2 separate regions of the Homo sapiens genome follow, and region 1 is linked to region 2. Evidence: fine-mapped expression QTL. A gene starts in region 2. The other region holds a variant in brackets. All regions are shown on one strand. Distances are between the middles of the regions.

Region 1 (5,379 bases), 27 kb after region 2:
ACAGAGTGAGACTCTGTCTCAAAAAAGAACAAAAATCAACCGGGCACGGTGGCGCATGCCTGTGGTCTCAGCTGCTCAGGAGGCTGAGTGAGGTGGGCAGATTGATTGAGCCTGAAAGTTAGAAGCTATAGTGAGCCAAGATCATGCCACTGCACTCCAGCCTGGGTGACAGAGCGAGACCCTGTCTCAAAAAAAAAAAAAAAAAGAAAAATTAAAAAAGAAATACTTAGGGCTTGGGAGTGTTTTGAGTTTCCTAACAAAATTCCGCTATTAGCACTAGAGACTGCGAGCACAAGGGTGAGTGGTGCCCAGTCCCTGTCCTCAAGGAGCTTGTGGTCTAGAGACAGACAGGCAAGGAGACTGTCAACAGCTGGCTTGGCCCAGGGAAGGGTGCCCTGCCCAGGCATGCAGATCTGGAAGATTGTGCCCCACGTGATGCGTAGGAGTGATTTAAGGAAAGAGGAGGAGGTGGGGAGCATGGAGAGCAGTGAATACAAGGTCCACAGGAGCCTCAGACAGCGAGGACTTGGAATGGACACTGGAGGGAGGTGGCTGCAGAGGGGGAATTTTCATACCACTCTAAGGAGTTCAGACAGTAGGGCACCAAGCAGGGGTTTTAAGCAAAGGAGTGAAATTAACAGATTTGTCCAAGAAATACCATTCTAGCAGTAGAGGGCATGGGGCAAGCCTGGGGCCAAAGACCAATCAATGAGGCTGTCAGGTAAATCCAGAAAGGAGGAAAGTAGATGGATTTGGTGAAGTGTAAAGAAGGGAAAATTGGCAGGACTTGGTAATCATTTGGGGTAGAAAAGAACTGAAGGGTGGCTTGCAGGTTTCTGCTCCAGCATTGTGGTTTGCGATGGAGGGAATTTGCACAAGCTGAGTTTGAATTGCCTATAGAACAGAAGGCAGAAGAAGAGCCTACAAATGAGACTGAGAAAGGAGCAGCCAGATAAGTGAGAAGGGAGACCAGGGATGCGTGGCATCCCCAAAGCAGGGAGGGGCCCGCAGTGCTAAGTGAGAACTCAGGGGAAGGGCTGAAACGTGAGTGATGATGTGCTTACACCGATGTCCTTGGCACCTGCGTTGGTGAGATATTTTGGTGAGGTGGCAAGCTCAGAAGCCAGATTGGAAAGACTGGAGAAAATGAATGAGTAGTGAGGAGAAGAGACAGTAGCTTCCTTTAAGAAGCCAGAGAAAGCAGCCCACTCTCAAAAGACACTTAATCTAGGCTGGGTATGGTGGCTGACACCTGTAATCCCAGCATTTTGGGAGGCGAAGGCAGGTGGATCACCTGAGGTCAGGAGTATGAGACCAGCTTGGCTAACATGGAGAAACCCTATCTTTACTAAAAATACAAAAATTAGCTGGGCATGATGGTGGGCACCTGTAATCCCAGCTACTCAGGAGGCTGAGGCAGGAGAATCGCTTGAACCTGGGAGGCAGAGGTTGCAGTGAGCCAAGATAGTGCCATTGCATCCAGCTGGCGAGATAGCGCCACTGCACTCCAGCCTGGGCAACAGAGTGAGACTCTGTCTCAAAAAAGAACAAAAATCAACTGGGCGCGGTGGCGCCTGCCTGTGGTCTCAGCTGCTCTGGAGGCTGAGTGAGGTGGGAGGATTGATTGAGCCTGAAAGCTTGGGTGACAGAGTGAGACTCTGTCTCAAAAAGTAAATCAATAAATAAACAAATAGACTTAATCTAAAGGGAGAACAAACAAGGCAGCAGGGCACAGAGGGAGAGGGCATTATTTATGGCTCTCAGGATCTGAGTACCTTCAATATTGACTAAAAGAAAGAAAATTAGAACGTCTTAGAGCAAGCACTGTTACAGGTTGAGTACCCCTTATCTGAGATGTTTGGAACCAGAAATGTTTCAGATTTTTAATTTTTTTTTTATTTTGGAATATTTGCATATCCATAATGAGATATCTTGGGGATGGGACCCAAGTCTAGGCAATGGAATTCATTTATGTTTCATATACACCTTATACACATAGACCGAAGGTACTTTCGTACAATATTTTAAATAATTTTGTGCATGAAGCAAAGTTTGTGTGCACTGAGTTATTAGAGAGCAAAGGGTGGCTATTTCAGCCACCCATGGCTCTTCAACCAATCTGTGGTTGTTAGGCATCATATCATTTCTGACTCCAAATTTATATGCTGCCGATAAGCAATCTTTTTCTTGCATGTAGTCACACATAAGTACTTCACAGTAAGAAATACAACATACCATTAATACAGTGGAAAAGTTGTGTGTTCAGAGTAACTGAGCAGCACAGTAGCATGACCAGAATACCTGTGTCAGCTGCTAGACAACAGCAACAGCAAGCAACAGCAGCTTTCGGTCTCTACCTACAATGCTGTGTTTTGATTAAAAGGTTACTGTACTGTAACCCCCTTGGGGATGCAGAAATAAACTGTGTGTTGTGCGCCTGCATTTTGAATGCAGCCGCCCATGGGGCAGGTGTGAAATGTTCCACTTGTGGCCTCATGGTGGCACTCAAAAAGGCTGGAATTGTGGAGCATTTTGGATTTTCCAATGAGGGATGCTCAGCCTGCCCTAGAGAGAAGTCCCTGACGAGGCTGGTAGGAAGGCATGGAACAAGCCAACCACGCGCTCTGTATACTAGAGTTCAGGCCCATTTCCTGTTGGTTTGTCACATATAGAACAACAGATCAGTTGGGGACAGGCTTA[A/G]AATAGCCCTTGGAGACTGTTGTTAAGTCGTCCCCAAACCACTTCCCCTTTCATTGATTAAATGACATTTTAGGATAACCCACCTTGCCTGTGCCTCCTGGGGACTCTTGGCAGAAGAGTCAAGGATGGGTGTGCCATAGAGAATCATGGAGCCAGGGAATTACATAACGGGGAGACCATATACTCCAACCCCTTCTGTGTAGGGAGAAACTGAGGCCTCTGCCCTTCCCCCTTTTGATGCTGTGTGGGAAGGAAATTTTAAAGGACTTATTCTAAAAATCTGAGGGAAAACAAAAGAAAGTTGAATAACTGCGAAAATCGGATGCCACCCAAAGGGCCCTGTTTGTTTTTATTATTTGCGGCTCTCTGCTGTGAGCTCCCTTCTCAGCCATTTCTCTATTCTCAATCCGGGATCCCTTCTAGACAGATGCCTTTAAAATGTTTAGAATCTTCCTTCTTCCTTGAACAGGCTAGGTCTAGTATCATTAGCATGACCCTTACCAAGAAATCAACAGATCAGCTCCAAATGGAGTAGAAGGTTCTTGTCTTAAATGCTGACTTCTCCAGGTCCCTGCCACCCAGCCCAGTCAGGGCCCAGAAGAGCTTTCATCCAGTGCAGGAGTCATTTTCAGGAAGGACCCTCTCTCAGGGATGTGCCCAGGTGTCTGCACAGGTTGCTGTCACAGAGCTGGCTCCCTTTTGGGAGCAAGGTTTCAGGATGTTGCCTCTGACCCCAGCCCCAGGAATAGCACCAGGAGCACTAACTCAGATGTTGTTTTTTTCTAGGTTCCTTCTGACCAAGGGGACATGGCTCTGAAGATGATGAGACTGGTGACTCAGCAAGAATAGGATGGATGGGGCTGGAGATGAGCTGGTTTGGCCTTGGGGCACAGAGCTGAGCTGAGGCCGCTGAAGCTGTAGGAAGCGCCATTCTTCCCTGTATCTAACTGGGGCTGTGATCAAGAAGGTTCTGACCAGCTTCTGCAGAGGATAAAATCATTGTCTCTGGAGGCAATTTGGAAATTATTTCTGCTTCTTAAAAAAACCTAAGATTTTTTAAAAAATTGATTTGTTTTGATCAAAATAAAGGATGATAATAGATATTATTTTTTCTTATGACAGAAGCAAATGATGTGATTTATAGAAAAACTGGGAAATACAGGTACCCAAAGAGTAAATCAACATCTGTATACCCCCTTCCCAGGGGTAAGCACTGTTACCAATTTAGCATATGTCCTTGCAGAATTTTTTTTTCTATATATACATATATATTTTTTACCAAAATGAATCATTACTCTATGTTGTTTTACTATTTGTTTGACATATCAGTATATCTGAAACACCTTTTCATGTCAATAAATGTTCTTCTCTAACATTTTTAATGGCTGTGGAGCATTCTACTTTATGGTTGTACTCTAGTTTATTTACAAAATTCCCAGTTGTTTCCGACAAGTATAATAATTTCTAGTTTGTTGCTATTATACATAGTGCTCTGTTGATTCACCCTGATAGTTAGATTTTTTTGTACCTCCTTATTTTCTTAGAATAAATTCATAAAAGTGTAATTATTTAGTCAGAGGATTGCCACATTTCCTTAAAATCAAAATAATTAGCTCAGGACTTTTAACTTTTTATTCATAGCTCAAGATCTACATAAGGAGGTTTGATGCCGTGGCTCACACCTATAAACCCAGCACTTTGGGAGGTCGAGGCAGGAGGAATGCTTGAGCCCAGGAGTTCAACAACAGCCTGGGCAACATAGGGAGACCCCATTTCTACAAAAAAAATAAAAACATTAGCCGAGCATGGTGGCACACACCTGTAGTCCCAGCTACTCAGGAGGCTGAGGCAGGAGGATCACTTGAGCCAGGGAGGTTGATGTTGCAGTGAGCCATGATCAAGCCACTCACTCCAGCCTGGGTGACAGAGACCCCATCTCAAAAAGAAAAAAAAATCTGCATAGGGGATCTAACAGCTTCTAGGACTGTCTGAAAGAAATATCACCTCTTGTAGTTGCAGGGCTGAGATTTTATTTATTTATTTATTGAGACTCTGTGACCCAGGCTAGAGTGCAGTGGCACAATCATGCCTCAAATGATCCTCCTGCCCCAGCCTCCCAAGTAGCTAGTACCACAGGCAAGCACCATCACATCCAGCTAATTTTTAAAATTTTTTCGTAGAGTTGGAGTCTCACTATGTGGCCCAGGCTGGTCTCGAACTCCCAGGCTCTAGCAATCCACCTGCCTTGGGCTCCCAAAGTGCTGGGATTACAGGCATGAGTCACCAAGCCTGGCCAAAGGCTGAGATTTAAAAAAACAGCCAGGCACGGTGGCTCCAGCCTGTAATCCCAGCACTTCGGGAGGCCAAGGCGGGCAGATCACGAGGTCAGGAGATCGAGACCATCCTGGCTAACACGGTGAAACCCCATCTCTACACACACACACACACAAAATTAGCCAGGCGTGGTGGCGGGCACCTGTAGTCCCAGCTAGTTGGGAGGCTGAGGCAGGAGAATGGCGTGAACCCGGGAGGCAGTGCTTGCAGTGAGCCGAGATCGCGCCACTGCACTCCAGCCTGGGCAACAGAGCAAGACTCTGTCCCAAAAATAAATAAATAAATTAATTAATTAAAAAAAATAACAAACCCAAAGCTTATTCCTGCAGACTGTGAGGAAACAGT
Region 2 (5,379 bases):
CATGGTCTCACTATATTGTCCAGGCTGGTCTCAAACTTCTAGGCTCAATCAATCATCCCACCTTGGTCTCCCAAAGAGCTGGATTACAGGCATAGGTCACTGTGCCAGCATCTGGATACATTTCAAAGAAAATTGTATACATTGGTACACCTTCCCCTAAACACTTTAATATGAATATCATTAACTAGAGGTGACATTTTATTTATATTTTTTCCTTTTGAAGTCATATTAGCGTATTATAAAATGCACAATTTTTTTGTGCGTGTGTGAGATGGGGTCTTACTCTGTCACCCAGGCTGGAGTGCAGTGGCACCATCTTGGCTCACTGCAACCTCCACCTCCTGGGTTCAAGCGATTCTCATGCCTTAGCCTCCCGAGTAGTTAAGACCACAAGCAAGTGCCACCACACCCAGCTAATTTTTGTATTTTTGTAGAAATGGGGTTTCACTATGTTGGCCAGGCTGGTCTCAAACCCCCGACCTCAAGTAATCTGCCCACCTCGGCCTCCCAAAGTGCTGGGATTACAGGTGTGAGCCACCTTGCGCCCTGGGCTGTAGTGTTATTTTTGTGGCAAAAAAATTGAAACCCTAAAATTCTGACTGCAGTGGAAGGGTAAGTGTATTTCAAGCCCTAGTGATACAGACCAACTTGGAAGCTTCAGACAGGAAAAGTTTGCTAGATAGTTATTTATTTTTAACTAAGCATGTACTTTTATGTATCTCCCATATGGCATGGAACACCTGCTCACTGCAGCCTGGAGCTCCTGGGCTCAAGTGATCCTCCCACCTCAGCCTTCTGAGTAGCTTGGACAGCAGGCGCGTGTCACCACATCAGTTAATTTTTGTTATTTTTTGTAGAGAGGGGGTCTCAATATGTTGCCCAGGCATTATGGATTTTATGCATTCGGGACCATCCCATGCTTAAAGCATGACAGAACCCGGCGGCATATTTTTCTCTGCCGCAGCTTTCAGTGCAGGGGCACCTCACAGGCAGGGCGGGGTCAAGGCTCTGTCCAGACAATGGCTGCAGAGTAAAAAGCACTTCCATTTATGGGGGTCAAGGGCGAGGGGAGGGAGAAAGGAGCAGGGAAAGAGGAGAAGTGGCCACATGTACTTTGATTTGTTTTTTGCTTTTTGTTACATGTACTTTTGAAGCAGTATTTAGAAGTAGCCTCTCCTACAGCCCCTGCTGTAGCTTGTCTCCTAGCTGTGAGGTGAGTTATTCAGTACCCTCTAACGTAAAAATGACCTTCAGACAGACAGACAGACACACACACACACACACACACACACACAGAGGAAAACAGCTCTGTCATCCACTTTTTCTTCCTTTCCCGTCCCCAGACCCTCGATTCTCTCTTTAAAATGACTGCTGTGAAGATAACGTAACACAGAGTAATACTAATGACAAATTATCAAAAAAGAAAAAAAAAATAAAAATCTTTATTAGTGTTTTTTAAAATGACGTAAAAGACTATGGGAAAAAATGCCAACAATAGTTATGTATAACTTTTTTGTTCATATTTCCAAAACGTTTATAACATACATAACTTTAAAAGAAAAATAATTTAAAAAATACATATCTGAAAATGAAACCCCGCTGTTTGCCAACGACCAGCTGGCTTAATCTGACTTCGCAGATGTAGCAGTGTTGGAAAACGTCGGTTCTTTTGCTGAGGGAAGGAAGAGATGGGAGGGGTAGAAAGGGCGGTGGTTATTCCCTTTAGTATTTCGATCCGGTCACACAACCTAAATCCAACATCTGCATCAAATGTCTCCTTTCCGAAATACTCTCCCTAAAATGACAGAGAACCTGGCCAGGCGGACAGAACGGCCCCTGCGCATTTGCAGGGGTCCTGGTGGGCTTGCCGGGCAGAGGGCGTGCGGGTCTCAGCAAGCTGCCGGGTCCGCCCAGGCCCCGCCCCATGCCCATTCAGGCCCCGCCCCCGACCCGCAGGCCCCGCCCCCGACCCGCCCCGTCCGCCTCCGTCACGTGATGGGGCGCCGGGTCCAGCCTGTTGCTGATGCTGCCGTGCGGTACTTGTCATGGAGCTGGCACTGCGGCGCTCTCCCGTCCCGCGGTGGTTGCTGCTGCTGCCGCTGCTGCTGGGCCTGAACGCAGGTAGGTTCAAGCAAGAGGCGCACCAGCTGCCATGCCTCTTTTTTCTCCAGGCGTGAGAGTTTGTTACTGGGTTTGTGCTTTTGAAAACATGTCTCTTTTCCCCGGTTCTTACCTTGTGTAATTATATTGCTTTTGAATCTCACTCTTTTTTTTTTTTTTCCTTAAAAAATTCAAAGTGCTTTTTTTGTCCTTTTCTGGCTCTGGGTGGTCTGAGTGCTTCCGTTCTCTCCTACGCCTAGATAGAAGCTGTGTGCAGAAATGTATGATTTGGGGAAACTGCTGGTCAATGAGGTTTCCCCGATTCAAAGGCCATGATTGGCTGCTAAATGAGGATATAAGGTCGTTTTATTTTAAGCTGAAATCTGCGGTCAAAAGTACCCTTACATCCTACCACGAATGGGACATTTCATTGAGATAAGGCCCTTTCTTTTCTTGATCAAAACAAACAAGATAACATCTTCCCCCACAGCGATCTTTTTTGGCAAAAAACAGATTTGTGTTTAATAGGATGACTTGCAAATTGATTTTCAGCAAAACCTCTCCTAGTCTGAAGCAAGCACTGAGAATTGGAACTGGCCACAAGCTTGCCTTGTGACCTTAGGCAAGTTGTTGAACAGTTTTGTTTTCCTTTTCTAAAATGGGGATCATCTGGCCCTTAGGCGAGTGTCTGGGAGATTTTGTAAAATAAGTAGCTCTGCCAATTTTACCAGTAGTCACTGCCAGGCAAGGGAGAAGTGCCTGGGGTTAGGTCAAAAGGTACCTGCGCCTTATCTGTCATTCTCAAGGGAGCGCAGCCTTATCTGTTATTGTCAAGGACAATATAATCGTGTGTTACTTGTATATAGAACCTTATAGCTAAGTCTGTAATGTTTTAGTCATCTGTTTTGCTCCTCAGGACACTTTCTGGTTTTCTTAATCTTCATTGTTGTTTTGTTTTGAGTCAGGGTCTCACTATGTTGCCCAGGCTGGTCTGGAACTGCCTGACTCAAGTGATCTTCCTACTTCAGCATCCCAAGTAGCCCGGACTGCAGACACAGGCCACCACCCTGGCTCTTTCTTATTTACAAGACGTTGTCTCATTGTCTTCCTCTCTACTCCTGTCTCTTTAGCTGTTGGGACCAGTGTTCTTTTACTGACCAATGGGGCTTGAAATTTGAGAAGGGAGGAAATAGAAGGCAGAAAACTCCAGTCACCGAGGGGATCCCCCCCATCATCTTTTAACAACAGCCCCTCTACTTTTTTTTTTCCCAGAGTGGTTTTGGAGGAAAAAAAAAAAGATGCTATAACTTGGAAATTGTTACGTTAGCAAAAAGTGACAAAGAAAATGTATTTAGCCTACTCTTTTCTAAAACATATTTTGTGGATGCTAGAAAAGTTAAGTAAGGAAAATTGGAGTTAGGGGATTATAGGATACGTATATTAAACACACATACACAGATATATATCGTTCAGTTTAAAAAAATCATCTACATGAGTTAGGAAAATTGCCCTTTTTCATATTTGTTGTAGCTCTTTCCTTGCTGTTTGCCTTTTTATTTTTGATTTACAGAAATTTTGTTGTATAGAAATATAACAAGTTTCTGTTCTCACCTCCATCATTGTTTCTTTTGTACAGTCTCTGGGGTTTGCTTAGATTCTTTCCTCATCCAGACATTAGAAATATATTTAACTATATTTTTGTATTTTTTTAATGTTTAAAGTTTAAAATTTAATTGCTTGATCCTCATGGAACTTATTTCGTTTATAGTGTTGAGAGGACCTAAATTTCTCTTTTTTTCTCCAAAAAAGGTAATTGTTGCTCCATTACTGTATATTGAATATTCTCAGCCCCACTAATTTGTGATGCCTCTTCACTCATGTTTTTTGTTTGTTTGGTTGGTTGGTTTTTTGTTTTTTTGAGATAGGATCTCCCTCTGTCACCTAGGCTGGAGTGCACTGGTGTGATCACAGCTCACTGCAGCCTCAACCTACTGGGCTCAAGCGATTCTCCTACCTCTGTCTCCTGAGTAGCTGGGACCACAGGCATATGCCACAATGCCCAGCTAATTTTTGCATTTTTTGTAGAGATGGGGTGTTGCTATGTTGCTTAGACTGGTTTTGAACTCCTATGCACAAGCTATCAGCCTGTCTTGGCCTTCCAAAGTGTTGGGATTACAGGAGTGAGCCACCAAGCCTGGTGTCTTACTCATGTATTAAATACGATATAAAAACCAGTATATTGCATTCTGAGATTTTTACTTTTTTACTCAAAATATAAATCTCTCTTGTTTTTACAGAATTATAAAAGTATTTCCTGTAATCCCAGCACTTTGGTAGGCCTAGGCGGGCAGATCACCTGAGGTCAGGAGTGCGAGACCAGCCTGACCAACATGGAGAAACCCCATCTCTACTAAAAATACAAAATTAGCCAGGCGTGGTGGTGCATGCCTGTAATCCTAGCTACTTGGAAGGCTGAGGCAGGAGAATCGCTTGAACCCGGAAGGCAGAGGTTGCGGTGAGCCGAGATTGCGCCATTGCATTCCAGCCTGGGCAACAAGAGCGAGACTTCGTATCAAAAAAAAAAAAAAAAAAAAAAAAGTGTTTCATATTTATTGTTAAAAATCCAAACATTACAGAAAAGTGTAGAGGAAAAAGTGAAAGCCCCTGGCCTCCTATGCCGCTGTTAAGTTTGGTTTCTTTTTTCATAGCCGAGGTTTTTTCCTTATTCCTGCAATGTACTGGGGTGGCTAAATTACCAAACTATAAAACAAATCATCTCTAGCCTAGCATGGCTGTCTCTACCAGGCTTGGAATTTACCTGTACATTAGGCACTCTTCTGGAGAGTGAAATTGAACTTCTGTTTCAGGAGCTGTCATTGACTGGCCCACAGAGGAGGGCAAGGAAGTATGGGATTATGTGACGGTCCGCAAGGATGCCTACATGTTCTGGTGGCTCTATTATGCCACCAACTCCTGCAAGAACTTCTCAGAACTGCCCCTGGTCATGTGGCTTCAGGTAAAGTAGCTTCCCAGCCTGGCCTGAGGTCAAAGCCAAGTCTCCTCTGTGTGGCTCTTTGCTTGCTTTTTGGGCTGATGTCTCAGCAGTGAAGGGCGGATTTGGTCCAGCAGTGTGACCTGGGGGTTCGGCGTGCTTCTGAGGTAGGCTGAGGCAATGGTATAGCCAAGGAGGCTAAATCAGAGGGCGAGGGGGTTCTAGCCTTTTGCCAGAGTCTCTTTATATTTCCAGACGGTCACAAGAAGGCTCACTGAAAACTCCTG

The links.
Region 1: its variant is fine-mapped to the expression of SCPEP1 in whole blood (TOPMed, PIP 0.93).

What each region holds. Positions count from the first base shown.
Region 1 is chr17:57,002,687-57,008,065 of GRCh38, forward strand. It overlaps SCPEP1 (serine carboxypeptidase 1), which reads left to right. Exons shown (of 13, transcript NM_021626.3): 13 at 3,487-4,082. The coding sequence ends at 3,549. Among named protein-coding and RNA genes, the nearest start is that of SCPEP1, 27 kb to the left of the region's middle. The variant A/G (reference allele first, on the strand shown) is at 2,701.
Region 2 is chr17:56,976,115-56,981,493 of GRCh38, forward strand. SCPEP1 (serine carboxypeptidase 1) reads left to right here and starts at 2,017. Exons shown (of 13, transcript NM_021626.3): 1 at 2,017-2,121; 2 at 4,968-5,116. The coding sequence starts at 2,046. RefSeq lists a silencer at 1,900-1,959.